2 separate regions of the Homo sapiens genome follow, and region 2 is linked to region 1. The links come from fine-mapping of genetic effects on gene expression. A gene starts in region 1. The other region holds a variant in brackets. All regions are shown on one strand. Distances are from middle to middle. Region 1 holds the start of VPS37B (VPS37B subunit of ESCRT-I). Region 2 holds the start of LOC124903039 (a long non-coding RNA gene).

Region 1 (2,907 bases):
GATGAAGTCAGTTACCCGAGAGCAAACCACACCTCAAGGTGTGAAGGAAGATAACCAGAAACAGGAGCTGGCACATGCCTTCCAGGGGCTGGGCAAGGCTTGACTCTCAGAGGTGAGGGTTGGCAGCCAGCCCCAAACCCCCATTTTAACTTCTTCCTGAAACTGCTCCAGGAACCTTCCTTAGTCCCAGACACGTGGGACGCAGTGGTACAAAGCCAGCCACACTAAATTTCCCACCTTCCCTTCCTCGGTGGAGGGGGCAACCCTTACAGAAAAACGTATCCTGTCGCCACCCTTAGGCCCATCCACGAACTCCCGTAACTCTGCTGGGGCCACTTCAAAAGAAGTCAGACTCCAGGGGCATTATTGGGACCCCTTAGATACATGGAACCTTCAAACCTTACCCTGGCTATGGTATGACCATGGACTCCTGCCTCCAAACCCTGGGCTGGGGACCCTCGCCCAACCCTTAAAGAGCCTCAGAACCACCTCATAGACTCAGCTACAGACCCTCAGCCTCCCGAACCCATCTTGGAACCCTCAATCCTCTCCTAAGAGTCCTATTTGGATAGTCCACTCAGTCCCCCAAAACCTACTCTGATCCCCTATAGCTGCCTCAGTCCCCCTGGTTGTCCCCAACCTTTCCTCTCAAAGGAAACCCCCCAACCTCTACCAGATCTAGCTCTTGGTCCCCCTCAGTCACCCCTAATCCTCGCCTCCGACTCAGCCCTTATTACTCTCCCCGCTCCTCCGACCAAACCAATCTCAGATCCCCCCAGTTCCGTCCTCTTCCGCCTAGACCCAACGATAGCACTCTAATCCCCAAATTCCCATTCCAGGCTCCCTAATCTCCACTTCAGACCCAGCCTTAAGTCTTCAGACCCAGCCTTAAGTCCTCAGCCCCACAAAACCTTGTCTCAGGACCCCCAATCGGCTCCCCAAGCCCCGTCTCAGGACCCTTTTTCCCGCCTCCGCCCTAGTCTCGGTCCCCTCAGTGCCTCAAACCCCCTCTCAGGCCCCCTATTCCTGCCTAAGCACCAGTCGCGGTTCCCTGGCTCCCGCACCCCGCCCCAAGCGCCCCCATTTCTAGCCCAGTCCCCTCAACACGACCGGAGGCGCCGCGGTCGCCTCCGCCTCCGGCCACCGTTCGAGGAGCGAACCCCGCTCGAGGCCTCACAGCCGCCGCCTTAAGCCCAGCTCGGCTCACCTCCTCCATCTTCTGCACCATCTCCGTCAGCTGGCCCTCGTCCTCCAGCAGCTCGTTGAGCTGCACCAGCGACAGCCCGGCGAACCGGGCTTCGCTCCCGGCGCCCGCCATCCCCACGTCTCGGCCGTCGTCGCCACCGCCGCTGCGGCCACCAGGCTCCGCCGACCGGAAGCGCCGCCCTCAAGGGCCGCCCCCCGCGGGGGGGACACGTGACGCCAGCCCTGGGTCGTGACGTCATCACCGCGCGGGCGGGCGGACGTGACGTAAGTGTCGCGGCTCGCTTGGAGTGGAATGTGTCAGGGACAGTCGGGACTTCTAAAGGGAGGGGAAGGGCCCTATGATTGGGCTGTGACGCGTGAGCGCATTAATGACGTCACTGCGGCTCGGGAGAGCGCGCCATGAGGTCATAAGAGCCTTTTTCCTCCAGGAAGAGAGATACCGCGATCCAAGGAAAACAGGCAGTGGGAAGGAAGTTCCCGCAGCCTGTGAGCCCAGCCCGATGCACGGAACCCAAAAGACAGAGACTTCATGGGGAAACAACTTTAGGTGTCATTGGTTACTTGGAATTGTGGAGCTGCCACGTCATTCATTTAACAAATATGTTTTGAGACCTACTCTGTACTGGGCATTGAGTATACAGTTCTGAATAAAGCAAAACGGACCCCTGCTTACATGGAGCTAACAGAATGAAAGAGGACGCAAACAAAACAAGAAATAAGTAAAATAATTAGGCGATCACAAATAAGGGAATGGACACTGAAATAAGAAAATAAAAAGACCTTTAGGGTAGTAAGAGATGGCACTTTCGGAGAAGGTGGCGTCTAAGGAAATGTGAAGGATGAGAAGGGAGGAACCAGCCACCATTCCTGTAGGAAGCTCAAGGCAGCAAAACCAGCACGTGCAAAGGCCCTGGGACAGGACTAACTTGGTGCATTCAGGAATGGGAAGAAGGCCAGTAAGGCTGGAGCATTTTGAGCAAGGACCCATTGAGTGGCCCCTTTGCATCACCTCAGAGGAAGGTGCCCAGACATCCAGGTGGGCCAACCTGTGCTCTTTCAGAAACAACACGATTTAGGGTGCAGTCGCTCTCAGTCTCTCAGCTACCGGGAAGCCTCTTAAGATCCAGGAGCCTGGGAACTCATTATCCTACTTTGGAATCTGTCACAGTTCTAGTTAGAAGAAACCTAAGGCTGAGGTTAACCATGACAGCCCCCTAATTTTACACATAAGGGAACTGAAGCCCTGAGAAGGGGAAATTTTTTGGGCTTTTGCTTTGTTTCTGAAAATCAAGTAATTGGCAGGTCTCCTGGCTCCCAGTCTGGCGTCCACCACGCTGGCATCATAACACACTGACCTCGTCTCATAACTCAGCTCTGAACACAGTCGAGGCATTCAGCAAATGCTTATCGGCAGACTTAGGGGCTTTGTGTATAAAGCTGATTCTTCTGCAACTCCATGGGTAAAACATAAGGTCTGTGTTCTCCATCCATACGTTAGGCTGGGCTCTGCCAACCTCTTCTCTCCTTCCAGCCCGTTGTACTAAGGGCTCGTGTTTGCAGAAAAATGATGAAAGTTAGAGGAACTATTGCTTTTTTTATTTTTTGAGACAGAGTCTTGCTCTGTCGTCCAGGCTGGAGTGCAGTGGTGCGATCTCAGCTCACCTCAATCTCCGCCTCCTGGGTTCAAGCGATTCTCCTGCC
Region 2 (2,907 bases), 31 kb before region 1:
ACACACAGCCTTTGCACTTACCGGAAACCTGGAAAGGTGTTCAGTCCCTGGGTGTGTGGCAGCCTCACAAGCACCCACTTTACCCAGGAGCACCATGCCAGAGGGAAGGCTGAGGTGGGGGAGCTCACCCTGTCCTACCCCCTGCCAAGATCACTGGCATTTATAGAGAAACAGGACAGGGTGGGTCAGGGGAGAGAAAAGGCCCCTTGGCTGGCTCCTGTATGGCCTCAGACAAGCCTTCCACCTGTGCTCACGTCTCCTGGAGGATGAAGTGGGGCCTCAGCTAAGGCTGCGTAGCCGGGGTGCTTGTGCCGGGTGGTTAGGGTGAAAGGGCCTTGCAAACTGACCACAAGGGCTAAGACAGACCCTGTGCCTGGCTCTTGTTTGTTTACAAGGCAAGATGGCTTCAGAAACACTAACGGAACTGATTCTCCACCAGATACAAATGAAAATCCACAGGCATTGACAACGCTTAACTGATCATTCTTGAGTCCTCAATGACCAAACTTTTTTTTGAGATGGAGTCTTGCTGTCACCTAGGTGGCAATACAGTGGCGTGCCTTGGCTCACTACAACCTCCTCCCGGGTTCAAGAAATTCTGCCTCAGCCTCCCGAGCAGCTGGGATTACAGGCATGCACCACCATGCCTGGCTAATTTTTGTATTTTTAGTAGAGATGGGGGCTTTGCCATGTTGGCCAGGCTGGTCTCGAACTCCTGATCTCAAGTGATCCGCCCCCCCCCCCCCCCCCCCCCCACCTCAGCCTCCCAAAGTGCTGGGATTCCAGGCCACTGTGCCTGGCCGAAACCTTTAATTGAACAGGCTGCCTCAAGTGTGGGGCTAGAAAGCAGGAGCTTGGGGTCTGGTCCTGCTCCCCCACCCTCTTGGACCTGTCACTGCCTCTCCCTGGTCCTCCTTGTGAATGGGACACACAGCAGGAGGAGAGGCTCCCACAAGGCAAGGTTCATGAGCCACAAGACTCTGTGAAGTCCAGCATCCTCACTGGAGTGGACAACAGATTTGGCTATAAGCTTCCTGGCAGCCACTGGGAAGAAAGAAACTATCACACACTTTTTCTTTAAGGCTAACTGGCTTCTCAGGAAATCCTTCCCTCTTCCTCACAGAAAAACCACAGAAATTTCTCCTGTACATTCTCATAGAACAATGATGTGCCAGGAATGGCAGCTATTACAGGAGACAGCAACAGGTGAGCTTGCTCTCATCTCAGTTCCTCAAGTCCCTTGCAGGGGCATTGTGACCCAGATACACAGCTTAGCTGGGGTGGTGAGGACGCAGGCACACGGCTCAGCCGGGGCGACGGGCATACCTAGCTGCAGGCGCACGGCTCAGCTGGGGCGGCGGACATACATAGCTGCAGGCGCACGGCTCAGCCGGGGCGGCGGGCACAGGGCAGTTCTGTAGCTCTGCAAGGAGGCAGGGTTTGCAGGGTCCCCTCCTCTCGGCCTAGAGAAGGAAACAGCACCCAC[T/C]GGGCTTTGAAATGGGCAGAGGCAACTGCCTTCTTGAAACACCTGCTGGCAAGTCCCCAAAGCAAAACATCAGAGCCACTGGTTTTCCCACTAAAAACCAACACAGAAAATCCTAACAAGTACCACCATTCACACAGCACACGGCGGCAACCTCACGGACAGAGAGCAGGCACAGTCTGAGCCCTGAGGTCACCCTCAGTCCCCTACTTGGACACAGTGGCTGTGATCCTGAAGACACCCTCTTAAGACACAGAACATGCCCTGTACGTGACTGCTGTTTATGAGACTGGTGACCAAGAGGGTAAGAGGCCCCACCTGTGCCAGGGGCCCTGGACAGGCAGAGATTTTGTCTTCAGCTTCAAAAACAGACGTCCCAGCCAGCTTCCCTGCTGGAACTTTGATCACTGATGTTTCAGAACCAGACATCATGAACATCCACATCCCCAAGTAAATAAGTGACAGGCCTGTTATTAATAATTCTCTATTTATTAAAAAGGGTCCTACAGCTTTACAGCCACAGCACCGGACACGGCCCTGGACAGCGACGGCGAGCCCGGCCAGGGGCCGCTTTGCAACTTCAATGCCAAGCTCACGTCTGGCTGCGACCGTGGCAGGCTGTGGCATCCCCGACAGCGGCCGGTGGCGGAGGTATGGGGGCGGGTGGCACCGCTCACTCGAGATTCACAGAACATGGCAAGCCCGCCTGACTGGCATGGCAGTGAATCGTCCTGTACAGCTTCATTTCCTTTAAGAAAACAGTTACAGTAGAGTTCAAGTCCGAGAGCAGGAATGTACGGTCACTGAGGACAAAAGGCAGTGGCCTGGCCCGTGGCCCAGACCCCGCTTCAGTTCTGCCTTCTGTCACCCTGGCGGCTAGGCACAGGTCGGGGCCCTGGATGCCCGACAAGTGACAGGGGAGGGGCGGGCCAGAAGGTCCACTGGTAAGCACCTCGGCCTTTTCCGTCAACAGGTGCCACTGCCCCCTGCTGGGCCCTGGGCCTTCAGCACACATGGCACGTGAAGATGAGGTCCCACAGGGGTGGGGGAAGAGCAGGTGCAGACGGTTGGAGTGCAGCCCCGTCCCTCAATCCCATGGGGCGGGCTTTCGCCAAACCCCTAACGTTGCCCACCCTGAGGCCCAGCCACCAGCCACCCAGGGGCAGAGGATATTGGCTAAGGGTAGCCTGGGTCAAGGCGGCCGGACGTCTTGACCACCTGTAACAGGGCAATGAACTTGGACAAGCCCTTCAGAGAAAGCAGAGCCGGGGCCTTGCCCAGCCCCTAGCAGGTGTGAGTCCCGGCACCTGGGGAAGCTAAGGCACAGCACGGACACCCGAGGGGGGGGCACCGTGCACTGCTTGCACAAAAGGAAATTGCATCCACTTCATCGGCATTTCGATCTGCTCAAGACAGTATCTGCA

Evidence for each region.
Region 2: its variant is fine-mapped to the expression of VPS37B in whole blood (INTERVAL, PIP above 0.99).

Annotation. Positions count from the first base shown.
Region 1 is chr12:122,894,745-122,897,651 of GRCh38, forward strand. It overlaps VPS37B (VPS37B subunit of ESCRT-I), which reads right to left and starts at 1,380. Exons shown (of 4, transcript NM_024667.3): 1 at 1,208-1,380. The coding sequence starts at 1,318. RefSeq lists an enhancer at 1,044-1,193 and a silencer at 1,374-1,523.
Region 2 is chr12:122,863,377-122,866,283 of GRCh38, forward strand. VPS37B (VPS37B subunit of ESCRT-I) reads right to left here. Exons shown (of 4, transcript NM_024667.3): 4 at 1,954-2,907. It overlaps LOC124903039 (a long non-coding RNA gene), which reads left to right and starts at 760. Exons shown (of 2, transcript XR_007063500.1): 1 at 760-1,206; 2 at 1,624-1,981. The variant T/C (reference allele first, on the strand shown) is at 1,487.